Linked DNA regions of Homo sapiens. The protein of the gene in region 7 purifies or fractionates together with the protein of the main gene of each other region. This does not show direct contact. Each region holds a gene or a part of one and is shown on either strand. Other genes may lie near its edges.

What was found.
Region 1: the proteins of MFSD1 (region 7) and CC2D1A purify together in Homo sapiens (affinity purification with mass spectrometry; one large-scale study listed by BioGRID and IntAct). This does not show direct contact.
Region 2: the proteins of MFSD1 (region 7) and ABCA3 purify together in Homo sapiens (affinity purification with mass spectrometry; one large-scale study listed by BioGRID and IntAct). This does not show direct contact.
Region 3: the proteins of MFSD1 (region 7) and OSTC purify together in Homo sapiens (affinity purification with mass spectrometry; one large-scale study listed by BioGRID and IntAct). This does not show direct contact.
Region 4: the proteins of MFSD1 (region 7) and RAB10 purify together in Homo sapiens (co-immunoprecipitation; one large-scale study listed by IntAct). This does not show direct contact.
Region 5: the proteins of MFSD1 (region 7) and PTPN18 purify together in Homo sapiens (affinity purification with mass spectrometry; one large-scale study listed by BioGRID and IntAct). This does not show direct contact.
Region 6: the proteins of MFSD1 (region 7) and RP2 purify together in Homo sapiens (affinity purification with mass spectrometry; one large-scale study listed by BioGRID and IntAct). This does not show direct contact.

The regions. Positions count from the first base shown.
Region 1 is NC_000019.10:13,912,522-13,916,659, reverse strand, and holds part of CC2D1A (coiled-coil and C2 domain-containing protein 1A), read right to left. Parts: intron 4,133-4,138; coding exon 4,067-4,132; intron 3,493-4,066; coding exon 3,358-3,492; intron 3,257-3,357; coding exon 3,022-3,256; intron 1-3,021. UniProt on the Homo sapiens protein: Transcription factor that binds specifically to the DRE (dual repressor element) and represses HTR1A gene transcription in neuronal cells. The combination of calcium and ATP specifically inactivates the binding with FRE.
Region 2 is NC_000016.10:2,330,248-2,334,385, reverse strand, and holds part of ABCA3 (phospholipid-transporting ATPase ABCA3), read left to right. Parts: intron 1-1,652; exon of another isoform or gene 1,653-2,139; intron 2,140-4,138. UniProt on the Homo sapiens protein: Catalyzes the ATP-dependent transport of phospholipids such as phosphatidylcholine and phosphoglycerol from the cytoplasm into the lumen side of lamellar bodies, in turn participates in the lamellar bodies biogenesis and homeostasis of pulmonary surfactant.
Region 3 is NC_000004.12:108,660,273-108,664,410, forward strand, and holds part of OSTC (oligosaccharyltransferase complex subunit OSTC), read left to right. Parts: intron 1-2,960; coding exon of another isoform or gene 2,961-3,034; intron 3,035-4,138. UniProt on the Homo sapiens protein: Subunit of STT3A-containing oligosaccharyl transferase (OST-A) complex that catalyzes the initial transfer of a defined glycan (Glc(3)Man(9)GlcNAc(2) in eukaryotes) from the lipid carrier dolichol-pyrophosphate to an asparagine residue within an Asn-X-Ser/Thr consensus motif in nascent polypeptide chains, the first step in protein N-glycosylation.
Region 4 is NC_000002.12:26,134,831-26,138,339, reverse strand, and holds the end of RAB10 (ras-related protein Rab-10), read right to left. Parts: intron 3,403-3,509; coding exon 3,319-3,402; 3' UTR 886-3,318; downstream 1-885. UniProt on the Homo sapiens protein: The small GTPases Rab are key regulators of intracellular membrane trafficking, from the formation of transport vesicles to their fusion with membranes.
Region 5 is NC_000002.12:130,358,626-130,362,763, forward strand, and holds part of PTPN18 (tyrosine-protein phosphatase non-receptor type 18), read left to right. Parts: intron 1-241; coding exon 242-350; intron 351-607; coding exon 608-684; intron 685-771; coding exon 772-867; intron 868-982; coding exon 983-1,021; intron 1,022-4,138. UniProt on the Homo sapiens protein: Differentially dephosphorylate autophosphorylated tyrosine kinases which are known to be overexpressed in tumor tissues.
Region 6 is NC_000023.11:46,874,930-46,879,067, forward strand, and holds part of RP2 (protein XRP2), read left to right. Parts: intron 1-2,575; coding exon 2,576-2,661; intron 2,662-4,138. UniProt on the Homo sapiens protein: Acts as a GTPase-activating protein (GAP) involved in trafficking between the Golgi and the ciliary membrane.
Region 7 is NC_000003.12:158,818,843-158,822,980, forward strand, and holds part of MFSD1 (lysosomal dipeptide transporter MFSD1), read left to right. Parts: intron 1-806; coding exon 807-905; intron 906-1,372; coding exon 1,373-1,484; intron 1,485-2,754; coding exon 2,755-2,811; intron 2,812-3,141; coding exon 3,142-3,298; intron 3,299-4,138. UniProt on the Homo sapiens protein: Lysosomal dipeptide uniporter that selectively exports lysine, arginine or histidine-containing dipeptides with a net positive charge from the lysosome lumen into the cytosol.

The DNA.
Region 1 (4,138 bases), on a different chromosome or scaffold from region 7:
CAATGTTTTTCCGGGTTGAATTATTGTTATAATTATTACTAGCATGTAATTGAGCAAAACGTAAATACATCAAGCTTATTTTATTTTATTTTTTTGGAGACAGGGTCTCATTCTGTCACCCAGGCTGGAGTGCAGTGGTGCAATCACAGCTCACTTCAGCCTCAACCTTCCAGGCTCAAGTGATTCTCCCACCTCAGCCTCCCAAGTAGCTGGGACTACAGGCATGCACCACCATGGCTGGCTAATTTTTAATTTTTTATAGAGACGCAGTTTCCCTATGTTGCCCAGACAGATCTCGAACTCCGGGGTTCAAGCGATCCTCCCACCTTGGCCTCCCAGAGTGCTGGAATTATAGGTGTGAGCCACCACACCCAGCTGAGCTTTTTGGGTTGGTTTGTTTGTTGAGACAGAGTCTTGCTCTGTCGCCCAGACTGGAGTGCAGTGGTGTGATCGTGGCTCACTGCAACCCCTGCCTTCTGGGTTCAAGTGATTCTCTTGCCTCATCCACCCGAGTGGCTGGGACTACCAGCATGCACCACCACGCCCAGCTAATTTTTGTATTTTTAGTAGAGATGAGGTCTCACCATGTTGGCCAGGGCTGGTCTTGAACTCCTGGCCTCAAGTGATCCGCCCGCTTTGGTGTCCCAAAGTGCTGGGATTACAGGTGTGAACCACCACGCCCAGCCCCTGCTGAGCTATTTGATAGTTTTGGTACACCAAGAGCAAAATTCTACCAGAAATGTACCTCTTGCTGACATAATTGGAGCTGGGTCCAATCCCTAACAATCAACTCGTTTCTCCCATTCAATCCTCTTCTGTTTTTTCTTTTTTTAGAGATAAGATCTTGCTCTGTTGCCCAGACTTGGAGTGGCACGATCACGGCTCACTGCAGCCTTGAACTCCTGGACTCAAGCGAACCTCCCACCTCAGCTTCTCGAGGAGCTGGGACTAAAGGCATGCACTACCACACCCGGCTAATTTCTTAATTTTTATGTAGAGATGGGTTCTTGCTATGTTGCCTAGACTGCTCTTGAACTCCTGGCCTCCCAGAGTGCTGGGATTACAGGCATGAGCCACTACATCTGCACTTTTTTTCTTTTTTAAAGTGTTGAGGCCAGGGGTGGTGGCTCACGCCTGTAATCCCCGCACTTTGGGAGGCGGAGCAGGCGGATCACCTGAGGTCAGGAGTTCGAGACCAGCCTGGGCAGCAACATGGTGAAACCCCGTCTCTACTAAAAATACAAAAATTAGCCGGGCTTGGTGGTGGGCGCTTGTAATCCCAGCTACTCGAGAAGCTGAGGCAGGTGAATCACTTGAACCTGGGAGGCGGAGGTTGCAGTGAGCCGAGATCACGCCATCGCACTCCAGCCTGGAAACAAGAGCGAGACTCCGTCTCAAAAAAATTAAAGTATTGAGAAACCTACTTCACATTAACAAATAGATTGGAAGACACAGAATTTTGTTACTGTGATGTCTTTGTATTCTTTGAACTCCTGACAAGTTTTATGCCAAACTTCCATTGTGAAAAATTTTTGGTCGTTTCAGTTGACAATTTCAGGTGACAATTCCAGTAATCCTTGAACTTTGTCAAAAACAATGGCTTGGAAACTAGCTTGGTTGCAGAAGGATTTAGTGACCCAGTGTTTGCTTTCTCAAACCCATGCCAGTATTTTGAGTTGTCTCTTTGCTTCCTGCCAGGGAAGTGTTTGGACCTGGGGCAAAGCCCCGTGTTCATATCACAAAGAGAGGGAGGGAGGCCTTCCTTTCCTAGGGGGAGGTTAGGAAGAAAAACCTCTTAGAAGATATGTTCTAGCTTGGGCAACATGGCACCTCTACAAAAAGTACAAAAATTAGCTGGGCATGGGGCACGGTGGCATATGCCTGTAATCCCAGCTACTCAGGAGGCTGAGGCGGGAGGATTGCTTGAGCCTGGGAGGCAGGTTGCAGTGAACTAGGATCATGCTACTGCACTCCAGCCTGGGCAATAGAGTGAGACTCTGTTTCAAAAAAAAAAAAAAGGCGATGAGGCCTGGCGTGGTGGCTCATGCTTGTAATCCTAACACTTTGGGAGGCCGAGGCAGGCAGATCACAAGGTCAGGAGATCGAGACCATCCTGGCTAACACAGTGAAACCCCGTCTCTACTAAAAATACAAAAAATTAGCCAGGTGTGGTGGCATGCACCTGTAATGCCAGCTACTCAGGAGGCTGAGGCAGGAGAATTGCTTGAACCCAGGAGGCAAAGGTTGCAGTGAGCCGAGATCGCACCACTGCACTCCAGCCTGGGTGACAGAGCGAGACTCCGACTCAAAAAAAAAAAAAAAATTAGCCAAGTGTGTGGTGCATGCCTGTAGTCCCAGCTACTGGTGAAGGTGAGGGAAGATCCCTTGAGCCCAGGAGGTTGAGGCTACACTGAGCTATGATCACATCACTGCACTCCAGCCTGGGTGATGGAGTAAGACCCTGTCTCAAAGAATTAAAAAAAGCCGGGCACAGTGGCTCATGCCTGTAATCCCAGCAAATTGGGAGGCCGAAGTGGGTGGATCACCTGAGGTCAGGAATTCAAGACCAGCCTGGCCAACAAGGTGAAACCCCATCTCTACTCAAAATACAAAATTAGCCAAGTGTGGCATATGCCTGTAATCCCAGCTACTTGGGAGGCTGAGGCAGGAGAATCGCTTGAACTTGGGAGGTGGAGGTTGTAATGAGCTGAGATCGTGCCACTGCGCTCCAGCCTGGGCAACAAGAACGAAACTCCATCTCAAAAAAAAGAACTAAAATAATTTTTAATGGCAAATGTGATCTATATTTTATCATAATATCATAATAACAACAAAAAAAACTCTCTGGGTATCCATGTCCTGCTTGGGAGGTATTCATGAACTCCAGGGGCTTGAAGACCCCAGGACTCAGGGTGTTGAAAATATCTCACAATCAGTGCACAGCCGGCACCCCCCTAGAGCAGCATCCTGCCAGATGGCCCACTCGGATCCCATATCAGCCCGGCCCTGCCCATCACCTACCTGGGGGCATCTGGGGCTTAGCCAAGCCTGGAGATGAGGCTGGGGCGGTGGCAGAAGGTCCCTCCAGGGTGACCCTGGGCTCTGGGGCTGACGCGATTCTAGGGGCCGGCTGGGTGGGTGCAGGGCTGTAGGTAGGCGTGGACGCCGGGCCTTTTCCTATGGCCACTGGCGGCGGGATGTCCGCTTCGTCAATGGCATTGCCCTTACGGATGGAGGCGAGCAGGTTTTCCAGTGTCTAAGATAAGGCGTGAGTATTGGTTTGGGAGAAGCCAAGAGCTTGGTGCAGGGCATCGGGGTTGGCGGGGGGTCCCTGTACCCTGCCCTCTGCCCACTTACTTTAAGCCCCCGATCGTAGCGCCGCATCTTGGCGCTGTCTCCAGCTTGTCTGGCGCTTTCAATTGCTGTCTGATAGAGCGCCAGCCTCTCCTGCAAGGTGGTCTCCAGCCCCGGATGAGGGGCCTCAGGCTTCGGCTGTGGGAGGGCAGGGGCACAGTGTGGGTGGTGACCCCACTTGGGATGCCCCTGTTAGCCCCTTCTGCAGTAACAGTCGGCCCCATGTCATCCCTGGACCAGCCTCCCCTGCCCCAGTGAGGCAGAAATCATGGTCCCCATTTCCCAGTGGAGGGAATGGGGTTTCAGAAGCATCATGTCACCCACCTGATATGGGTCACATGGCTGTGAAGGATAAGGGTGGGCCAGGCGCGGTGGCTCACGCCTGTAATCCCAACACTTTGGGAGGCCAAGGCAGGTGGATCACTTGAGGTCAGGACCAGCCTGGCCAACACAGAGAAACACCATCTCTACCAAAAAATACAAAAATTAGCCAGGCGTGGTGGCACACACCTGTAATCCCAGCTACTGGGGAGGCTGAGGTGGGAGGATCCCTTGAACCTGGGAGGCAGAGGTTGTAGTGAGCTGAGATGGCACCACTGCACTCCAGCCTGGGTGACACAGCAAGACTCCATCTCATAAAAAAGGCTAGGTCTTGAACCCCGGGCTGTCCGTTGGGTTGTGGTTCAAGGGAGTGGAGTCATCCAAACTGTACCTGGGCCACAGGAGGTGGGGTCTCTGAAGCCTTCTGCTCCTCTCCAAGGACCTCATTTAGCTCCGCCTGCAG
Region 2 (4,138 bases), on a different chromosome or scaffold from region 7:
CAGCATCACTGCCCATTGGGACACACCCCGAGCTCCCTTCTTGGTGCAACATCCAGCGCCTTGATGACATGGGCCCAGGGTCTGCGCCTTTCCTGGCTCATTCTCTGCACTGCCACTCGGAATGACTCGCTGCTCCCCATACACAGTCTGTCTCCAGGATCCTGTAATGTCCTTCCTGTCCCAACTAATGAGTCATTCAAGACCGGCTTCCCATGTCACCTCCCCCCATCACCCTCCCGGGCCATCTCCCTGTCTTGCTCGCTGTCTCACACACGCAATTAATTCCTGTCTTCTCCTGAATCTTGCCATACTTTATTTAGCATCCGTCACAGCAATTACAGTGCATGCAAGTGTTCAGGGACTGTGAACTCCTTGGATTAAGAATGTTATCATCGGCCAGGCGTGGTGGCTCATGCCTGTAATCCCAGCATGCACTTTGGGAGGCTGAGGCGGGTGGATCACAAGGTCAAGAGTTTGAGACCAGCCTGGCCAGCATGGTGAAACCCTGTCTCTACTAAAAATACAAAAAATTGGCAAGGCATGGTGGCGCACGCCTGTAATCCCAGCTACTCAGGAGGCTGAGGCAGCAGAATCGCTTGAACCCAGGAGGCGGAGGTTGCAGTGAGCTGAGATCACACCACTGCAGTCCAGCCTGGGCAACAGAGTGAGACTCCGTCTCAAAAAAAAAAAAAAAAAGAATGTTATTTTCATTTCCAAATCCTTAGTACCTTGTACAAGTGCCCATCAGACAGCAAAAACTTGGCAATTGTTGAATGAACAAATGCTTTTTTGTCTTGTATACCCTAAAAGACCATGGATTCTACCGGCCTCCATTAATTGACTGTCCTCCGTGCCTCAGTGCGCATACACGCGGATCTTTGATGCTGGCTGGCTGTTGCAGACTCCTGGTGTCAATATTGGGATGTTGGGTCCTCCCCTGAAGGAAAAGCACCAAATGTGACCAGCACCACACCTGTGGCAAAGCGAGCAGAGCCATGGTTGGCGGCTCTCTTTGTGCATCTTGGGGCGGTTCACCTGTGGCTTTATCAAGGCCCCCTTCTTTCCATGAGTGGATTTCTCTATGCCTTTGTGGACAGGCTTTCATGGAGGGAGGTGTAACCAAGCTCAGAATACAACAGGAACACATGGCGTAATGGGTCTTGTGCCCCTCACTCTGGCCTGTCCCTTCTGTTCATGGGTCTCAAGACCCACCACCCCCAGGGACCTCTGCTCCATATATGCAGATATAAAAACTTCTTTTGAAAGGGCTCATAAGGGCCAGGCAGCATGGCTCATACCTATAGTCCCAGTACTTTGGGAGGCCAAGATGGGAAGAAGATTGTTTCAGGCCAGGAGTTTCAGACCAGCTTGGGCAACATAGCAAGACTCCATCTCTGCAAAAAATATAATAAGTAGCCAGGTATGGTGGCATGTGCCTGTGGTCCCAGCTGCTCAGGGGGCTGAGGCAAGACGATCACTTGAGCCCAGGAGCACCAGGCTGCGATGAGCCCTGCTCACGCAACGGCACTCCAACCTGGGTGACAAAGCAAGACTGTGTAAAAAAAAAAAGGGCACATAGGAATTGGGTGGCAAATTCAAGCCTATGGTGCACACAAAAATACCTGCAAACCACAAATAAAGAAATGGAGGAGGCAATCGGTGCGGGTCTTTGGACACAAGAAGACAGCCACAGCTGTGGCACACTGCAAACGCGGCAATGGTCTCATCAAGGTGAACGGGCGGCCCCTGGAGAAGATTGAGCCGCCCACGCTACAGTACAAGCTGCTGGAGCCAGTTTTGCTTCTCAGCAAGGAGCGATTTGCTGGTGTGGACATTCGTGTCCGTGTGGAGGGTGGTGGTCATGTGGCCCAGATTTATGCTACCCGTCAGTCCATCTCCAAAGCCCTGGTGGCCTATTACCAGAAGTATATGGATGAGGCTTCCAAGAAGGAGATCAAAGACATCCTCATCCTGTATGACCGGACCCTGCTGGTAGCTGATCCCCGTCCCTGCGAGTCCAAAAAGTTTAGAAGCCCTGGTGCCTGTGCTCGCTACTAGAAATCCTACCGATAAGCCCATCGTGACTATCAAAATTCACCTGTATAATAAACAGATTTTGAAGGATTTTAAAGTTTCAAGGAAAAAAAAAAAAGAAATGGAGGAGTTTGGGATTTCTCCAATTTGCTGCTGAGCACTGGCCGCCTGAAGAGCCACAGCGCTTGTTAACTGGCACAGCCGATGGCTCTTGAGCTGACAACAGTTACTGGAAAGACCATTTGTAGAAGAATTTGTGCCATCAAGAGAGTTCTGAGAAATGAGCAGCCTGCAGTATGCGCTCACTCTGCACCGAGTCAGTTGCTTACCTAAAAAACAAACATTGAGATACTCAATGATATGTGTGATGTTTAATATTTTAACAGTAAGCAAACCTTTTATAGAGAGGGGAAAAGGTTTGCCTTCCCTTTCCTGACTGTGTCCCGGGACTAGTGAAGAGAGCCTCTTCAAAGGGAAGTTCTTGAAGCTCTGCTCTTGTCCTCTTGCTGGGCAGAGGCGGCAGCTTTAGGAGTGGCTGGAGTCCTGAGTGTTTAACTTAGAGTAGCTGATGGGGGCTCAGCCGGGGCCGGTCCTGGGCCTCAGTCATCAGCACTTCTGGAGACTCTGCCGCCTCGGCGTCAAGTGCAGAAGGAACATTAACTTCTTTCTCTTGTGTACATTTGCTTTTGTAACAAAAAACTTGCCAGATTTTGTAATTCTAGGATCTCTTCCTTTAAACTCCTTTTGCTGAAACAGAACAGATGCAAGCGTAGTGTTCAGTGAGACTTTAGGTAAAGCCTCACACGTATCAGGCAACAAGCTGGGTGCCGTGGGGGCACAGAGATAAAACCTCGGCAGGGCACAGTGGCTCACGCCTGTAATCCCCACACTTTGGGAGGCCGAGGCGGGCGGATCACTTGAGGTCAGGAGTTTGAGACCAGCCTAGCCAACATGGCAAAACTCCGTCTCTATTAAAAATACAAGAATTAGCCGGGCGTGGTGGCATGTGCCTGTAGCTACTTGGGAGGCTGAGATGGGAGGATCACTTGAACCTGGGAGGTGGAGGTTGTTGTGAGCCGAGATCGTGCCCAGCCTCGGCGACAGAGCGAGACTCTGTCTCAGAAAAAAAGAAAAGAAAAGAAAAGAAAACTTCTATTAAGGTGATGGGGCTTAGGGGTCTTTTTTACCTTTCAGTTTCTGATGTTATGTTCTAGGAGTGATATGCAAAACTTGTATGAAGTTGGAAGTTGTTCTGTGTTTTTAGGACCCACAGGTTGTAGTAGTGTAGTAGTTAGAAGACAGACTTGGAAGTTAAAACAAGCCAAGGTTCAAGCCCTGACTTGGCAGCTTCTTGCTGTGTGATTTTGGGCCAGGCATTTCCTCCTTGTTTCTTCGTCTGCAAAAGGGTGATGTTCCAGGTCAGGAGATCGAGACCATCCTGGCTAGCACAGGGAAACCCTGTGTCTACTGAAAAATACAAAAAAAATTAGCCGGGCGCTGTGGTGGGTGCCTGTAGTCCCAGCTACTCGGGAGGCTGAGGCAGGAGAATGGCGTGAACCTGGGAGGCGGAGTTTGCAGTGAACAGAGATCGCGGCACTGCACTCCAACCTGGGAGACAGAGTAAGACTCCGTCTCAAAAAAAAAAAAAAAAAAAGGGTGGTGTTGCCAGAAGCCAGGAGAGGATGAGGAGGTTGTAGAAGCAGAGTGCTTACAAGCAGGAAAGCAGAGTTTCAGCTGGGTACAGTGGCTCACACCTGTCATCCCAACACTGTGAGAGGCCAAGGTCGGCGGATCACTTGAGGTCAGGAGTTTGAGACCAGCCTGGCCAAAGTGGTGAAACCCCATCTCTACTAAAAATACAAAAGTTAGCTGGATGTGGTGGTGGGTGCTTGTAATCCCAGCTATTTGGGAGGCTGAGGTAGGAGAATCGCTTGAACCTGGGAGGTGGAGGTTGCAGTGAGCTGAGATGGCACCACGGCACTCCAGCCTGGGCCACAAGAGTGAAACTCTGTCTCAAAAAAAAAAAAAAAAATAGAGCTTATATTCTTTTTTTTTTTTTTTTTGAGACAGGGTCATCTCGGAGCTGATGACTCTGAGTTAGCAC
Region 3 (4,138 bases), on a different chromosome or scaffold from region 7:
TTGTAAATCTAGGATTTGAGTTTTTAAGATGAATTTATGGTTCCCTTTCTGATATCATTTCTCATCTGCAGCTCCTAATGCCTGGTACCTTGGGTATGGAGTGAGGAGAGACAATGGACAGTTTTATATAAGAAATGGAAGTAATGATACTATCTTTCCTGGAATATTTGCAGGCCCCAGAGGAGATGATGAGCAAGGACTGTTGGCCTGTATTACACACAACAGGGTTGTAGTTACTATCCCAGCAAGGAAAGGGTGTATCTTTCTTCTTTCATGCAAATTATCTATGATGACCTAACAGTTTGATTATAGTGAGTGGACTAACCACAACAATAAAAAAGATGTCAAAAAAACACCAATAGCCACTGGTTTTTCCAAATCAACTATGTTTCTAGCATCTGAGATAAAGGATGGCTGTATCATAAGATGCACCATGATAACCTCCAGGGTGGAATTCTTTTTTACAAAGATGTTACCTTTAGCAAGAGATGCCTTTGAAAAGGAGAAAACAGTAGCACTGAAACAGTATTACTGGTTCTGTTTTCTGATTTATGCTTTTTTGAAAGACCTGATGTTTCCCCTATTGATATAATTTTACTAATTAAAACATGTTTTATTTGATGTCTTGAGTTTTGAAGAAACGTCGAAAATGAATGACTGTTGGCTGGGCACAGTGGCTCAGGCCTGTAATCCCAGCATTTTGGGAGGCCGAGGTGTGCAGATCACTTGAGGTCAGGAGTTCAAGACCAGCCTGGTCAACGTGGTGAAAACCAGTCTCTACTAAAAAATAAAAAAATTAGCTGGGCGTGGTAGTGCACGCCTGTAATCCCAGCTATTTGGGAGGCTGAGGCACGAGAATTGCATGAACCCAGGAGGCAGAGGTTGCAGTGAGTCGAAATTGTGCCACTGCATTCCAGGCTTGGTGACAGAGTGGGACTCCATCTCAAAAAAAAAAAAAAAAAAGAATAAAGAATGATTGTTTATTAGCTTTGCACACATAGCAGTACATTTAAAAGGAAAAAATTAAACGTAGTCCCTAATATTTTTATTAGTACAGTCTCAAAGGAGTAATTTTCATTGTGAAAATGAAAATATTCTAATATAATTTATGAGATAATGTATGTGAAATCATGTATGTATGCGTCTGTATGTTCACTGCATTTTAAATATACATAGACTCAAAGGAAATAATGTTCGGTTACTGAGTAGAAGACTGGTACACGTTTGAACTTGATTCTTCTGAAAAAATAATGAATCTTCATTAGATTGTCTTTAGCCTCCACTCTTAGGGCAGCTTTAACTTAAAAGCAGAATCTTTTTCTTTTCTTTTCTTTTTTCCTTTTTTGAGACAGTCTTGCTTTATCACCCAGGCTAGAGTGCAATGGCGCGGTCTCGGCTCACTGCTACCTCCGCCTCCCAGGTTCAAGCCATTCTCCTGCCTCAGCCTCCCGAGTAGCTGGGATTACAGGCATGTGCCACCATGCCAGGCTAATTTTTGTATTTTTAGTAGAGATGAGGTTTTGCCATTTTGGCAGAGGCTGGTCTCGAACTCCTGACCTCAAGTGATCTGCCTGCCTCAGCCTCCCAAAGTGCTGGGATTACAGGCGTGAGCCACCATGCCTGGCCAAAAGCAGAATCTTAAAAAAAATAAAAATAAAAGGTGGCCTGTGGTGGCGTGGTAATGCCCTAAAGTCAGGTGAGGTGTTCAATTGGAGATGGAGGGATGGGTTCCTACATTCAGGCAAGTCTGTTATAAAGCTGTATAAAACTACTTGAAATAGATACTATCAGATAATTGAGGACAAAAGGTCTGCCTTATTTCAGCTGGCAAAAATGGCTTTTTAGCAATTTCACCTAGTGTTTATTAAGCTTGAGAAGAAAAGCTAAGGATCTTCTGGATAAATCCTGAGATCATGGGATCAGTTCAGAAAACAAGTTCTCTTAAAGGGAGAAAGGAATAAAAAATATGAATGTAATAATATTTAAACTAACATCATTTAGGGAATGATATGCTGCATATATGTGATTCCATGTAATTGAAAATACATAAATACTAAAACATTGTATTCATTTTCGACAGACCCTCTTTCTAAAGCGTTTGTTGTGTTGTATTACACGTTAACACTCATATTTGTATGTAGCAAATATTTATTTGATAACTGTTACTTGCTGGACACTGAGATTAAACATAATTTAACCTTCTCCACTGAGGTCATTTTACATTTCTGTTATGCATAGTACTACTTTTCAGTTTTGTTGATTTCACTGGCTTGTCACTTGTCATGGTGATCAGTATATACCTATTGTAATTTCATCCTTTCCCTCTTCTTCTTTTCAGTTTGCTGGTTATTCTATGACTTGAGGGAATAGATAACCTAGCTATTAATTACCTTTTAAATCAGTTCTGGCTGAAGGAGAGCTTAATGGCTTGGCTTTGTAACCATACTTTCAGATGTTTGAGAATCTCTTTCATTTCCTTCCAGATTTGGAGCTATATTTTAGAGAGTTAAGGCTGTAGAGAAACTAGCAGCTGGATTGTTTCAGCGACTAAAAAGCTGATATCCGAGGTTCATTTTTAGCAAATAAGGGACGTAATTCATTCTAAAGAAACAAAACATTTGTACAGCTGCTGAGGACAATGTGTAGTAGAGAGGGTGAGGAATTTGGAGTCCAGTTTTGGCCTGCCACTTAATAGCTCTGAGACTTTGGATTAGTTCTGTGAACTCTCTTGGCCTCAGGTTCCAAACCTGTTAAATGAAGTATTAATGTACCTTGGGGAGTTACAGTTGTCAACATTAAATGAGAAGGTGTGCTCTCAATCATAATGTAAGTGTTAATCAATGTCAGTGTTTTCATTCTAAAGATAGAGTCCTAAAAGTTCTGTTTCAAGTTAGATTATGGCCACAGTTTCAAAAATAAATGAATAAACCATTACTGTTTTTGTTTTGTTTCGTATTGAGACGGAGTCTCGCTCTGTTGCCCAGGCTGGAGTGCAGTGGCGTGATCTCGGCTCACTACAAACTCTGCCTCCCAGGTACATACCATTCTCCTGCCTCAGCCTCCCTAGTAGCTGGGACTACAGGCGCCCACCACCATGCCCAGCTCATTTTTTGTATTTTTAGTAGAGATGGGGTTTCACCGTGTTAGCCAGTGATCTCCTAACCTCGTGATCCGCCTGCCACGGCCTCCCAAAGTGCTAGGATTACAGGCGTGAGCCAAGGTGCCCAGCCTGAATAAACCATTACTGTTTCTAAAAGAAGAAAGTGAGGTTTCCATTTCTAGGACCATTGGAGTGGGTAGTAGACCAGGAGTGAGGAGACTTGTGTTTTAATGCTGGTTTTGTTCTTTTCTGGCCTTGTGATTTTTGAGCAAACGACTTAATTGCTGTCACACTCTTCATCTGTAAAATGAGACTAATCCTTGTTTCACACACCTTTTTAAGATTGTTGCAAGGGTTAAATGCAATAATGAATGTGGTAGTGTTTTGAGAAGCTTCTATTAGTGCTAACCTAGCACAGAGCTTGCCTTAATATACAGAGGCACTGAGTGATTATTGAAAGAATGGCCTTAAAGATTAAATAGAAGGTCCTTCATGGTGGCTTCTCCTGTCTCTAGTTGGTTTTTGAGTTCTTGATTTACTTTTTATTGTATTTATCTACGGTTTTACTTATGTAAAATTCTCACAGGCCTGAATATAAGATTATGAAATTTTCTGGGTCAAGAGAGGGGGCTAAATGATTGAGTATATATTATAGTAAGTGTATTTCAACAATTTTATTTTTATTTCTTATCAAGAAGTATAGTAATGTATTTGTTCTTCTTTTCTTTTTTCTAACATGGTATCGTTATAACATTATAATATTTCTTAGTATCTCCCAAATTGTCCTTAAGGTAAAACTATTTTAAGTTTGGCAGCTTTGAACAGGACATGTCTATTTAAATATTCTTTTCTATCTAAATATAGGTTGACAAGCATGGGTCACCCACTAGTTACAAGGAAGGATACCATAATATATAGCTATATTAAGAGATAGAGTACAAAGTGTATATTCACATATAGGTATATGCAAATTACAAGAAGTTACTCCTAATGAGTCTTTAGTACTCTTGTTTCATAGTGTAAGCTAGCTGTTGGGTA
Region 4 (3,509 bases), on a different chromosome or scaffold from region 7:
TCAGCCTCCCAAGTAGCTGGGATTACAGGTATGCGCCACCACGCCCGGCTTTTAGTATTTTTAGTAGAGACGGGGTTTCATCATGTTGGCCAGGCTGGTCTTGAACTCCTGACCTCAGGTGATCCACCCGCCTCGGCCTCCCAAAGTGCTGGGATTACAGGCGTGAGCCACAGCGCCCAGCCAATACTTTTTTTTTTTTTTTTTTTTTTTTGAGACGGAGTCTTGCTCTGTCGCCCAGGCTGGAGTGCAGTGGCGCTATCTCGGCTCACTGCAGCCTCCTCCTCCTCCTCCCGGGTTCACGCCATTCTCCTGCCTCAGCCTCCCGAGTAGCTGGGACTACAGGCGCCCGCCACCACGCCCGGCTAATTTTTTTGTATTTTTAATAGAGACGGGGTTTTACCACGTTAGCCAGGATGGTCTCCATCTCCTGACTTCGTGATCCGTCCGCCTTGACCTCCCAAAGTGCTGGGATTACAGGCATGAGCCACCGCACCTGGCCAATACTTTGTTTCTTAGTAAGAGGCCAGCTGCTGCTAAAACAAGGATTTACCCTCCAGTATGAGGAGCCCAGCTTGGTCCCCCTGAGGAATCAGGTGACCTCAGCTGTAGTGGCCTTAGGCACATCCAACTAGTGTAAGCCAGGTGTGATTAGGATCGTGGCATCTCCTATTTTGGCACAAGGATGATTCCGCTTTAGGATCCCAGAGATAATTCTATTTTTTAATGTAGTTTCTCAGCAAAGACAGTTCTTGAAATTGCCTTTCCAGTTTTCCATAGGTTGACAGTGATTTCCCATTTTTGTCAACTCTTTGAGTTTGCGATTCCACATTTTTTTCAGAAGTAATCTTCCAATTCCATAAATAAATGAAAACCAAACCACACAGCTGGAAATCAAGTTTTGTTTTTATATGAACAGAAGTAGACCATCTAGAAATATTTCAGTTTATTTAAATTGTTAAGTAGAATATGAAACCGAATTTGTAGCTAGTACCAGAGAATGGACTTAACTGTTTGGTGTTTAATGAGAACAGCTTCTACACAGGATCCCAAGAGACTTACAGAAAAGGGGCAAAGCCCTAATATTAAGCAAATAAAACTCATGTTTCAAACAGATTATACAAAAATTGATTTATACTTCATTTCCCTTTTTTGATATTTAGAAAGTGCAGATTTAACAAAAGGTAGCCATATCCTTTCTATGTACAATGCCGATTATAATTATGCAAAACTGTCAGTCTGTTATCCAAAAATCCCAGTGTTTAGCTCTCCAACCTTAAGTCATGGAATTGAATAAGAATTAAAGAGGGTTAAAATAAAAAAGCTAATGCCACATTCCAGATAAAGGGAAGCAACAAATACATTAATCTAACAACAGTAGGTTTAACCTAAACTTTTCAAAAAGCTTAACATCATTTCATTATATTTTTAGTGGAAAATTAGGGATTATTTGGCAATGCTGCTTTTTACTAGTAGTAAACAATGATAAAGTCAAGTGTGGGAATAACCTAAGAATAACAACCAGTGAGGCATATAAAATTGTTTTTAGGGCACTATCTGAAAAATTTGTGGATTTTCATAGCAGATACGTCCCTATGTTGTTTGCTTATGTGAGCCAAGAGGTCATTAAAATGCTATTCACGACACAGAAAGACTTCTCAATGGAAGCTGCTGTCCTAAACTCAGCCTCTGCTAGAAATGAATCATGCTATTCACAATTCTTTCAACAAAGGTATCATCTTAGGATGCTAGCAGCATAGCAAACTTCACTTACCCTATCCTAATGATAAGCAATGAAGCAAAACTAGAAAAAATGCAGTGAAAAAAGGACAGGGTTAGAGATAGCTAAAGATCTTATCTTTACATGAAAAGCCTTTCGTTGTCCTTTTTCCAAACCCATGGTAATACAAGTTTTCCAAAAGGATGTAAAGACAGGACTTAAAATTAATAATATTCTAAAGTATTTCTGAATCTTAAGGTAAAGAAACTTAACACTGAAAAAGTGTTCTTCAGAGGCCAAATCTCAATACATTTGGCAAACATGTTAATAAAATTCACTCCTCCTTCCTGCTTTTCCTTTTTTAAAAAAACAACCTGTACTAGGCTACCAAGCTGCTAGAGGAGTTGCCAAAATGCAGACTACTCAAATTTAGGTTAAGAGATTTATTCTAGGAAAGTGAATAGGCTATACACCTAATTAGAAAGACAAACCACAACACCCTCCAAACACTAGTGCATGCAGTTAACTCTTCCATTTCATAAACTCAATGGATAGACAGGAAGGGAACAAAGAGAGGAGGAAAAGCAGAACATAGAAGTAAAACAGCAAATGAAGGCATCTGGGACACATTTTAGGGAAGAGAGCAAATGAGGGGGGAAGACACCAATTAACTGACATTGGATAGTAGGCAGTTAGAACTTATCTTTCCGTTTACCTAGCAAGTTACATCAGTGCTTTATATTAAACTTGACAAACCTACTAGTTTGTCCCTTTCACTCTTAAATATACCATGAGGTGGTTGGGGAGGGAGAAGCAAATAAAGCAGCATGCAGGGAGACGCAAGGAAGAAGTGGCCAAGGAGAAGAAATGGTGGCAGGAATAGTTTTAAATATCAAGGCCACTTAAAACAAGACTCAGCAAACCAAAGCTATCACTTCTGCATTACCCTTTGTCCTCAATTAACTACTTTGAAAATTACAGCCAAGCAAACCACAAACATTTTAATGGTTTATGTTTGGATGATATGTCTCCTGCACATGCTTCCACCAGAACAAAAAAGGAAAACCAAAGAAGTTCCTTTCCACATAAGGCACAGGACAAAATTAATCCCATTTACATATTCAAGGCGAAAATGAGTGTTTTCCTGGCTTTTGTTTGTTTCTTTTGCTATCACATGTCTATAGATTATAGGGACTCAAGCACATTATCCATGACAGAAAATTCCACTGTTGTACAAAATAAAATTGTTAATTCTAACTTTATTCTTATACAATTTGCAGAATAGATTTGAAATGATTGCTATAGGTTTTAATGTTGATAAGAACTGGACTATAATACAACTGAAATGCAGTTGAGCTGAGCAAGTACATTTAAAAATGAACTCACAGACATGATTTTTCTATACATTTTTTTGTTTGAAGAAAATTATGATAAAGTCAGCAAGCAGTCACAGATGAAAGAACAAATAAAATAGGTGGCTTGGATAGTTAAGATGAGAAACAAAAATATCTGTTTAGAGTTAAAAATGGACAGAGTGGTTTATTTTGCAGCAAGAAGAGAAAACGGGGTAGTGGATGGCAACTGATGGAACAGGAGAATGCTCAGCAGCATTTGCTCTTCCAGCCTGTCACGCCTCCTCCACTGCTGATATCTACATTTTCACTGTTGGGCTCTTTTACAGGGGTCTGCAACAAACACACAAGGAAAATAACTCATGAAAAAACACTGCCATGGATAAAATCACGATTCAACAGGAATATTCTTATGTCAATTTATACAACAAAATACAACT
Region 5 (4,138 bases), on a different chromosome or scaffold from region 7:
CACGTCGTAGGAACCTGTGATGATTACATGCCCTTAGCACAGAGAGTGGCACAGAGAAGGTGCCCTGGGTCACTATTTCGGTATCATTATTATTAGGCAGGCCCAGTGCCATCAGGGTCTGCACTCACCTCCCCAGGCCACTGGCTTTGTATCCTGCAAGCGTGCCTAGGTGGCCTGGGACTCTGACCTGGCTCCTCTCCTGTCTTCTCCCCTCCCTGACCCACTCATAATGCTCTACCAGGACATCCAGGCCTGCTCGGCCGCCTGGAAGGCTGACGGCGTGTGCTCCACCGTGGCCGGCAGTCGGCCAGAGAACGTGAGGAAGAACCGCTACAAAGACGTGCTGCCTTGTAAGTCGGGGCTTCCGTAGGGAGTCGGTGCAGCCTTGCACGCCCTGCCACGTCCAGGCGTCAGTGTGCACTGGAGTCACCCACTGTGCTCTCCTCCCAGAGCCTCACCCTCTGCACTGCTCAGCAGCCCACAAGGGCACCTTGGTGGGATCTCTGCATGTGTGTGGTCCCCTGCTGGCTTTCAGCTAGGGGGCTGTCAGAGGCTCCGTCACCCTATCCTACCCAAACTCCACGTTTCTCACCTTATCTGCTGACAGATGATCAGACGCGAGTAATCCTCTCCCTGCTCCAGGAAGAGGGACACAGCGACTACATTAATGGCAACTTCATCCGGGTGAGGGTTGGGGTCACGGAAGGAGGTGGACTGGGAGTGGCCAGGGGTGGGCCGCAGAATCTCAGTCGTGAATTCGGCCTTCACCAGGGCGTGGATGGAAGCCTGGCCTACATTGCCACGCAAGGACCCTTGCCTCACACCCTGCTAGACTTCTGGAGACTGGTCTGGGAGTTTGGGGTCAAGGTCAGCACTTGGGGGTGCGGCACAATGGTGGGGTCAACATCTAAGTACCCCCTCGGCAGTTTCCCTGGCCCCCTCACCCAAATCACCTTCCTCTCCCCTGACCCTCCTTGTCTAGGTGATCCTGATGGCCTGTCGAGAGATAGAGAATGGGCGGGTAGGTGCCCTCTGCCCCCAGGTTTCATGTCCTTGTGGGAGGAGGGAGGAGGGATCTTGCTAGCTCCTCCTTGACCCCAGGACCCGAGGGTCCAGCTCTTGGAGTGACCTTATTGTAGCTCTGTGGGAAGCCCCATTGTTCCTCTAAGTTTTTGTTGATATGTTATTCATCCCCCAGTGTTGGCAACCCCTCTCCTGCTGGGCTTCCCAGCCATTTCACACCTTAGACCATAAGGCCCTATTCTGACTGCTTCCCCTGTAGGCTCTGATCTCTCTTTCCACCTCTCTTCCCTTTATTCACTCCACTCTAACAACTCTGGTCTCTGCTGTTCCCATGTTCCAGGGATGGCTCTGCCTCAGGGTCTGTGCCTTGGCTATTCCTTCAGCCTAGGACATCCTTCCCTGTGGCTTGCTCTATCACCTCCTTCAGGTCTTTGCTCAAATGGTAATTCCTCAATGAGACCTTCCGGGGTGGGTCTTCACACCATTTTAAACTCTCAGCACTTCCATTCTCCCTCCCTTGTCCTACTTTTCCTTCTTTCTTCACAGTTCTTATGAACTCCTAACACACTGGATAATCTACAAATGTATTATGTACATTGTTTATGCTTAATCTCCCTGATTTAGAAGGTAAGATCCACAAGGCCAGGGATTTTTGTTTTGCCTGTTAACATAAATTAGTTACTAAATAAATAAATGCATGTCAATATTGAAGGCTGAAGGCACATAGCTTCATGTGGTTTCTACATTCTTGCCTACTCCATGGATGGGGTAGGGGTTCCCTGGGGTGACTAGCTGATGGTGGAGGCTGTATGATCTGTAGTCTTGTCTCTTTCTCATTCCTGATTTTGGTAATTTGTGTTCTCTCTCTCTCTCTGTCTCATCTCTCTATTTCGCTATCTCTTTTTTCATGCTCCTGCCTGTTTTTTGTAAACAGTGTATTAGAACACAGCCACACTCATTTATTTACATATTGTGTATGCCTGCTTTTATGCTACAGTGGCAGAGTTGAGTAGTTGCAAGTTGAATAAATTATATGGCCTGTAAATTCTAAAGTATTTATCTGACCCTTTATAAAAATGTCAGCCAATCTTTGGACTAGAAGTTTATCATTTTATTATTTTTTCAAAGAACCTGCTTTGGTTGTATTCATTTGTATTCATTTTCTCTATTGATTTTTTCATTTTCCACTTTTTTTTTTTTTGAGACAGAGTCTTGCTCTGTTGCCCAGACTGGAGTGCAGTGGTGCAATCTTAGCTCACTGCAACCTCTGCCTCCCAAGTTCAAGCAATTCTCCTGCCCCAGACTCCTGAGTAGCTAGGAATACAGACACATGCCACCACGCCCAACTAATTCATTTTCTACTTTAATTTCAAGTGTACTTGAAAACAATGTGTATTCTGCTTTGGTTGGCTGGAGTGTCCTGTAAATACCAATTAGGTCAACTGACAGACTTTTTAAAAAGACACTTTTATATCTTTACTGTATATTTTATATCTTTACTGATTTATTTTCTCTAAATGTATGGATTGCTTAGAGAGGAGTGTTGAAATTACCAACTGTTCAATAAGTATTAATTAGGTCAAGTTTGTCAACAGCACTATTCAAGTCTTATTTCTGACAATTTTTTTTGTCTGCTTGCCCTATTATTTGCTGAAAGAGGAATGTTGAAATCTGCTTTAACTATTCTTTCAGTTTTACTTTTCATGTTTTAAAACTTTATGATTGAGTACATATACATTTAGGATTATGTCTTCCTAATGATTGGATCCCTTTCTAATATGTAATGACTCTTTATTTGTTAATATTTTTTTCTGAAGTGTACTTTGATATTAATACAGCCATTTAAATTTCTTTCTTTTCTTTCTCTTTCTTTCTTTCTTTCTTTCTTTCTTTCTTTCTTTCTTTCTTTCTTTCTTTCCTTTCTTTCCTTTCTTTCCTTTCTTTCTTTCTGTTTTTTTGAGATGCAGTTTCCCTCGTCACCCAGGCTGGAGTTCAATGGCGCGATCTTGGCTCACTGCAACCTTTGCCTCCCAGGTTCAAGCGATTCTCCTGCCTCAGCCTCTCGAGTAGCTGGGATTGCAGGTGCCTGCCACCACGCCCAGCTAATTTTTGTATTTTTAGTAGAGATGGGGTTTCACCATGTTGGCCAGGCTGGTCTCAAACTCCTGCCCTCAGGTGATCCACCCGCCTCAGCCTCCCAAAGTCCTGAGATTACAGGCATGAGCCACCGCCCTCGGCCTTAAATTTCTTTAGAGTTTGCATATGTCTTTTCCCATTCTTTTACTTTGTATCTATGTTCATCTTTATTTTTTAGTGTGTTTCTTGTAGGTGGTGTATTGTAGGGACTTTTTTTTTTTAAGACAGAGGGGAATGGAGTGGTGCAATCATAGTTCACTGTAACCTCAAAATCCTGGGCTCAAATGATCATGCTAGCGCAGCCTCCCTGAGGAGTTGGGACTACAGGCATACACCACCGTGCCTGATTAATTGTTTTTTATTTCTTGTAGAGATTAAGTCTCACGTATAATCCAGGCTGGTCTCGAACTCCTGGCCTCAAGCTGTCCTTCCACCTCGGCCTCCCAAAGTGCTAAGATTACAGGCATGAGCCACTGCATCTAGCCAGGACTTACTTTTAAATCTAATCTGACAGTCTCTGCCTTTAATTGGAATATTCAGCCTTTAATGTAATTATCAATAATGTTGGGTTTAAACCTACCATCTTGCTATTTGTTTTCTATTTGCTCTGTTTGTTCTTTTCTTCTTTTTTTCTCTTTCAGAGTGAGAATTTTTTATTAATCTATTGCATAGTAATTATTCCCTTATTAGCTATACATCTTTATTTTAAATATTTAGTTGTGGCTTTAGGGTTTACAATATATATCTTTAACTTATAGTCTATAGTCAAATAATATTCTACATTTCATGTAAAATGTCAGAACTTTACTGTAGTATATTTCGATTACCCCTTTCCATGCTTTGTGCTATTGTTACTATATATTATAGTTCTATATATAAAATATACTCCACAGTACACTGCTATTATAGTTGTTTTAGAATATCTTTTTAAACAGCTTTATTGATATACAATTCAGTCATTTAAAGTGTACAGTTCCAT
Region 6 (4,138 bases), on a different chromosome or scaffold from region 7:
TTATAGTATTTATGAGGTTGTTTAATTCGTTCCTCCATATTTCTTGCAGACTAGAAGTTAGATCAAAGCCTTGTTTACGTTCAGGTTTAGTTATTTTTTTACTTTTATTTTTTAATTTTTTTTGGCAGGAATACATAGATGGTACTGTTTCCTGTTGCATTAATTGAGAAGGCACATAATGTTTGATTGTTGTACTTTTAGGGATACTAAGATTTAATGGTTGGGTTTACACGGTGACGACCTTCTCTTTTTATTGTAGAGTTTCCTGCAGTCTTCTCTGTGGGATGCTAAAACCATTGATGATTGTTGCCTGAACCAATTGTTTTAATAGGCGTTGCAAAATGACTGTTTTCTGTATTTTCTTTCTTTTTTTTTTTTTTTAGCAAACTTACTTTTTAATCTTGTCACTACCTCTGCATTTATTAACAGATGTTAACAGAACTCCTCGTATGCCAGAGCTGTTTGGTTAACTTGAAATATGCTTCATGTCAGAAAAGCAGAATAAATAAAGAGAAAAATAAGCATCAATTTTCAGAGTAGTGAATTGGTGCCCTAGCAACCTCCATTGGTATACAGTGAATTTTGTTTCTCTCTTCTTTTTTTATTTTCCTTAAAAATATCTGGTAGTAAGGAGGATCTCTCTAAGTATCATTATGAACTCATGACTTTTTATATATTAATTTTAATAAATCAGAGTCATTATTCCTTCTGTTTCACTATGTCTCATCTTTGGCCATTGGGAGCCCCTTCAGGCTGGCTTCTGTCTCCTTTTGATAGAACCCCACTGGCCTTTGATAGCTTCATTACTTTTTGGCTGAAGAAAATATTCCACATTGACCTTAATCCATTTCTTGCCCCAGACATGGAATCATCTATTTTTCTAAGATTACTTAGTTATTTTTAGTGGGGAATGATATTTAGAAATACATGTTAGGTGCTATGTATTACTGGGTTGTCATTTCTTTTAAGCTTTTTCAGTGGACATAGCTAGAAACTATGTATTTTTAAAAAGGAAAAGATCATGAGTTTACATTGATATTTCTAAATAAAAATTTAAGATTTTAAGCTTTTCTTTTGTAAGGTTAGATGTTTTATTACAATATGTTCTTGAACTCCTGGCCAGGGCTGAAGGCAAGAGGATTGCTTGAGGCCAAGAGTTTGAGACCAGACTGAGCAACATAGTGAGACCCCATATCTATTTTTTTTTTGAGACATGGTCTCGCTCTGTTGTCCAGGCTAGAGTGCAGTGGCTTGATCATGGCTTGCTATAACCTCAAACTCCTGGGGTCAAGTGATCTTTCCATCTCAGTCCCTCGAGTAGCTGGGACTACAGGCCTGTGACCCTGCACCCAGCTAATTTTTTAATTTTTTGTAGAGACGGGGTCTTGCTTTGTTGCCTAGGCTGGTCTTCAACTCCAGGGCTTGTGATCCTCCTGCCTAGGCCTCCCAAAATTCTACGATTACAAGCATGAACCACTGTGCCCAGCCGTGAGATTCTATCTCTAAAAGAAATTTTAATACATTTTTAATAAAGTATACAGGAGGATGTGCATAAGTTATATGCAAATACTATACCATTTTATTAATATATAAGGGATTTGAGCAACAAATGGAACCAATCCTTGCAGATACCTAGGGACCACTATATCCTGCCTTTTCTGTATTTGTTGCCTGTATTATATCACAAGCCTCCAAGAAAAAAAAAATCACAAGCCTTCAGTTATCTTGATGCCCAATGTAGTGTAACCTTTTCTTTCTCATTCTTGTACCTTGTACTGCAGCACACGGTTACATTCAATTTAGTGTTTCATATTCATTCACTCTAGTATTTCATTACTTCGTACTTCATTATTCTGTGTTGGTTTGTATTTGTTTAATGGGTTTATGTCTTCTTTCAATACATTTGTAATTTCCTGGAGATCAAGACTTTTCCATCACTGTAGGAGGTTTTTAATGTTTTCAAATTAATGTATGAGAAAGGAGGCACAGATATTCTATTAAAAGGATTAAAAAATAAAAACTTTGTCTATGTTTCTAGAATGTAGCTTTAAGACACACTCAAGGAAAATACTTTCAGATGGTCATCACTTTTGGTGCCTGGCCTCAATTCTTATTTGGCTTAGCTTCATTATTGGTGGCCTAGAACTTGGCTGGTAAGTAGGAGAGTTGGAAGCAAGGCTGGCTGCCTGGCAAAACCTACTTATGTTGACTTGGATTGCTTTTGATCTTATTTGCTATTTTATCAACTATTTTTATACTCCTAAATGAGTAGAATTTCTGTGGTTTTTATAGAAGAATGAGAACCAGAAAAGCCAGACTATTTACAACACTTTAAAAATGTGACACTAGTCCTATAATAGTACTGAAGCTACTTGTTATGAGACTGTGTTAATTTGTTTTATGATTAGCGTAGGAAGAAGCAGCTGAGGTGATATGTCCCATCTGTCTGCTTTCCTCTTCCTTCTCTTTCACCCTCAAAGAAGATGCTGGAGATTCTTCAGGGAAGAATAAAAAGATTAAATTTAGAATATATTTGTATTTGTGTTAAGAAAATGTTTCTTGGGTTTGCTTATAGGTCCTGTTATTGCCTTGGAGTTTAATGGGGATGGTGCTGTAGAAGTATGTCAACTTATTGTAAACGAGATATTCAATGGGACCAAGGTACAAGATTTTATTGACTGTATTTCAATCTAACTTTTCATTTCATCTCCTTTTCCTTACAGTCAAATAATACTTTAATACTTTTGTCCCTAATGTTGCTTGGAATTTTTGGGGTGTGTGTGTGTGTGTGTGTGTGTGTGTGTTTAAAGCAGATCATGATTTTTAGAACCTTTGATAAATAATTGGGAACTAAGCTGTGATTTTTTTCTTGCCAAACTAAACTTTAATTGTTTAAAATAATTACAAAATAAGAATCTATTTATTAAAAACCTTCTATAGTATATGTTTCTAAAGTAAAAAGTCTCATCAAATGTCTTTTCAAGTCTTTGCATTTTTAAAAATACTGATTTGTTGAAAATATTTTATTTCTAAGATTATAGTCTTTAGATGGACGATTCTGTTGCCCAGGGTTCATTTTTACGCCCAGGGTTCATTTTTACTTGCTTCAGTAATGCTTCACCAAAAATTGAACTTCAGATATACATAGAAATCATCACATGTAGGCCGGGCGCGGTGGCTCACGCCTGTAATCCCAGCACTTTGGGAGGCCGAGGTGGGCGGATCACGAGGTCAGGAGATCGAGACCATCCCGGCTAAAACGGTGAAACCCCGTCTCTACTAAAAATACAAAAAAAAATTAGCCGGGCGTAGTGGCGGGCGCCTGTAGTCCCAGCTGCTTGGGAGGCTGAGGCAGGAGAATGGCGTGAACCCGGGAGGCGGAGCTTGCAGTGAGCCGAGATCCCGCCACTGCACTCCAGCCTGGGCGACAGAGCGAGACTCTGTCTCAAAAAAAAAAAAAAAAGAAATCATCACATGTAGGCATTTTCTAAATATATTGATGAAGTTGCTGTATCTAAGAATTGCAGACATAAATAAATTTAAAACCAAACATAGAGGATTACATTAGCAAATCTATAATTGACTACTTTTTGATAAATACCTGGGAGGACATTTTGGTTTTATCATCTGATTTGGCTTATGATTCCTTGAATTTACAAAAATTAAAGTACTTTGTCTTTGATCTCATTTTATCATCACAGTAGTACTAAGGGAGAGGGAAAATACCAGGTTGAATAGAAAAGGAAACTGAGAGATAAAATGGTTAGAATTTGGACTTTTAGAGCTGAATGATTTAGAGATTATCTAATCCAGCTTTCTCATTTTACAGGTGTAGTTACTGAGCCCACAGAGGTTTATTAAATTGTCAGCATCATATGCTAGTTTACGATAAAGCTAGAATAGAACCCACATCTGCTCTAATTCCTTGCTGACATTTGTAAAAGCTACTTTAGAAGGGTTCTATTGAGTATTGCTTCATTGATGTTTAGCAGATAGTTTATTTAAAAATAACAGGCTGGGTGTGGTGGCTCACACCTGTAATCCCAGCACTTTGGGAGGCTGAAGCGGGAAGACTGCTTGAGCCCAGGAGTTCAAGACCAGTCTGGGCAACATAGTGAGACTCTACAAAAAGTAAAAA
Region 7 (4,138 bases):
CAGAAAAGACCTGTGCCATCATCAGGTCAAATCCTCTTATTTAAAACTGGGGAAATTGAATCCAAGAGAGCTTGTGTTCCATGTCCAAGGTGATTCAGCTCGTTAGAGCTCACGTCTACTGATGCTCATTTCAGCGAATTTTCAACCGGGCTGTGGTAGGGCAGTGAATTAAAGATTCATTTATTTTATTAAGCTTCTTTTGGAAATTCTTCCTGAGAAGTGTATCGTTATTCACTCTTTATCCTGATTTTCTGTAGTGATATGAGATTGGTATTAGAGAGAAATGCTGATCTCACAGGAAAGAGCTTGAGAGTACTGCGCTTTGGGAGGATGGGGCACTTGGGCTGCCAGAGGGCAGGAGCGAAGGCCGTGGACTCTGGGAAAACATCGGAAGGAAGAGAGATGAAGAGCCTAACTTGGCTTCATCATTTTTTCCCTGGTGTCCATTGACAATTGGTGCTTAGACTGAATGAAGAAATGAGGACTACATCAGTAGCTGCTCATCAGTTTTCTTCAGTCTGTATTCTGCATTACAGGACTAGACTAGTTTTTTCTAGTCTTTTCCTTTTAATCTTTAACTTTGAACTGTGAAATAATGCAGTAAAAGCTACTACTGTTTGCTGAGTATTTGAATGTACTCTTCCTCTTTTGTCCCGATTTAGTAATTGCAGATTTTTCTCGTGTCTTTATGTGACATCCCTTTCAGTTGCTGTTTTTGCTGTTTATGTAATGTACTTCTCCTTAGGAACCTTCTGTTTGGTTCTCTTTTCAAAGTCTGTTTTTCTTTTTTTTTTTTTTTTATTTAGGGGGTATAACGTGTATTCTTTCACTAATCTGTGCCTTGGCTCTTGCCTACTTGGATCAGAGAGCAGAGAGAATCCTTCATAAAGAACAAGGAAAAACAGGTAAGTCTAAATGAAAGAATGGGACTTAGGGGAATTACGGCCTTTGTGAGATTTTATAATGAGATCTAAGTTCCTAATGAAGTGTTGTAAAACCAGGTGGAGCTTAAGACATGATTTTTATTTTTTATTTCCAAATTGATTTCCACTTTTCTAAATTTTTAGATGTATTTTCTTTTCCCCTTAAATCTTTTGGCAGAATTTACATTCTCGATTGTATATTTGCAAAATGGTTATTCTTGGAAAGGAGCAGGAAAGGTAGATGCCAGTCTTAGTCTTAGGTTTTGCTTTTTCTTATGTCTTTGTAAGTTATCCCAGAAATGATGTTTGTGTAATTTACTAGAAAAGTATTTTTTTAAGTTGAATTGCAAAGATTAATCACAAGATTTTAAAAAATAATCTTGACTATAGATGAAAGCTCCTTAGGTATGCAAAATTATGCTGATAGTGTCTTCCCTTTCTTCTCTAAGGTGAAGTTATTAAATTAACTGATGTAAAGGACTTCTCCTTACCCCTGTGGCTTATATTTATCATCTGTGTCTGCTATTATGTTGCTGTGTTCCCTTTTATTGGACTTGGGAAGTGAGTATTCTCTATGTTTCCATTATTTCTTGTCTAAATTATCATGAGAGTTCAATCACATAAATGTAGTTTTTAAAGCAGTAAATCTTGCTTCTCTGGTTATAGTTTATATTTTCACAGGAATTACTTTAGATCCTGGGATATACATTTTCTTTTAGCTTAAGGTTTAGTATTGGTTTTATACTTTTATTATTCTTTTGAAGAAATACCTGTATTACTCCACTCTCATGCTGCTAATAAAAAACTGCCCCAGATAGGGTAATTTATAAAGGAAAAAGATTTAATTGACTCACAGTTCCATAGGGCTGGGAAGGCCTCAGGAAACTTATAACCATGGCAGAAAGGGAAGCAAACATTCTTCATTCACATGGTGGCAGGAGAGAGAAATGAGTGCCAGCAGGGGAAATGCCAGCTGCTTATAAAATCATCAAATCTCGTGAGAACTCACTCACTATCACGAGAACAGCTTGGGGGAAACCACTCCCATGATTCAATTACCTTCTACAGGGTCACTTCCATGACAGGTGGGGATTACGGGGATTACAATTCAAGATGAGCTTTGGATGGGGACACAGCCAAACCATGTCAATACCTAATAATTTTTGATTCATAATATTGATTTAATAGTTGATTTTAGACTAGTATTCTTTTTCATTCCCTCTTTATTCCTTGGTTAGAAAGGCTCTTACTGAGAATGGAGACTGTTTATTGGTGCACTGTGCCTGGGAACATCTCCATTGATTAGGACTGTAATTCTGCCAGACTTAAATTCTGGGTTCAAAGCAAATTCTTCTTTGCTTTATCTTCTACTTCTCTCTCCTTTTTCATTGGCAGCTGCTTAAGCAGCGCAATGTAAGTGTGTTTGTGTAAGGGTATGGTTTATACCCTTTGAGTTCAGGCTGTCCTTTTAAATAGTTTCAGACAAGAACCCTGTTTATTATTTAGCAAAGAACCCATTCAGTACTGCTTTTAAGGAAAAGAAGCAGCCTTAAGTCCCTGTGGTAGTATATTTGATTTTCTGAAAATTTGTGTGTATTCCTTACTGCATACCAGAAAAGGAAAAAAATATGCATCATATGTCATTTAGTCAGTAAACATTAATATAAATACTGAAGCTTTAGCAGATTGCCTGAAGGTGAATATAAATAAGGTGGGAGAATAATATCAAGAAAGAAGCTGATTAAACTTGAGTTATTTTTATTCAACTTTATTTTTTGAAAACAGAGTAGTTCTCTCTAATGTGCTAATTTCTCTGTCTTTTTAATTTTAGAGTTTTCTTTACAGAGAAATTTGGATTTTCTTCCCAGGCAGCAAGTGCAATTAACAGGTATTTTAAAATTAATTTTGTAAGTGCCTATTGCATGTGAAGTATGGGTCTTTATAATCAAATGTTAAAAGAAGCAAAAAAGATGTATGTGACCTAATATTTTTTAAGTGCGAAACTGGGACTACATTGGGACTTGAATCCTGAGTGGCTGTGTTTAAATTAGTGGAAAACCAAAGAAGTCTTGAACTGCTTTTTATATTTTTTGATGAGCATTTTATAAGAATGTTAAATGAGTTAGGATTTGCTTTGCCTGATATTTTCAAGACTTTCTTGAAACTGATGTTTGACTGTGTTGCATTTCATGAAATGTCTTATGTGTTCTCTGGGCAGTGTTGTATATGTCATATCAGCTCCCATGTCCCCGGTGTTTGGGCTCCTGGTGGATAAAACAGGGAAGAACATCATCTGGGTTCTTTGCGCAGTAGCAGCCACTCTTGTGTCCCACATGATGCTGGCCTTTACGATGTGGAACCCTTGGATTGCTATGGTAACGTCTGTGTTAGCCCATGGTGGGGTCAGGGCTTCAGCAAGGAGTCTGTCATGTTCATCTAAGTAGGCACGCTCAGCAAATTCAGATGACAAGGCCTATGATAGTGGGGAGATGACAACTTGATTCCAATATCTACAAAATAATTATTTTTTAAAGTATAATTATGAATTATTAACATATAAGGTATCTTTTAATTTCATTTGATTTATTTAACCAGTTAACTTCAGTGCTGAAAGAGAATTTGAAATAAAGTAGCCTTATAAAAGCCAGAATGCTTATTAGTCCCATTTGTTTTTCTAAAATAGGTGACTTAAAAGAAGGCATTCCATCATAGATGGCAAAAAACCAAAAATCTGTTGGACCAGTAACTCTTCTTTTTCTTTGACTTGCTTAGTAGGTTAAAAAGTGATAATGAATTCAAGTTTTTGTTATTGTTGTTCAAAACATCATTTTTAAGACCCGAGGCTCTAGTGCTGCATTTCCTACCTGTTAATAAAGGAATATCTGGAACATAAATATTTGTGCAGTGAGTGGGCATTTCTCTAGAAGTGTTTCAACAGATACAGTACAGACTCCTAGAAGTAGAGATGCTACAGCAGTGGGTTTGCGTATTTAACATCTTGGTTGAGATTGTGAAACTTTCTCCGATAACTTTCTACCCATTTATAACTTTAGTAATATACAATGTGACTTTTTTTAGTATCCTTGCTAGTATTGGGCATTGTCATTGTTTTAATCTTTGCCAATCTGATAGTTATAAGTGATACTCATTTAAATTTAAATCACAATATTTCTTTTTTAATTGAAGAAAAAATCAGCATTAGGTGAGGTTTACCA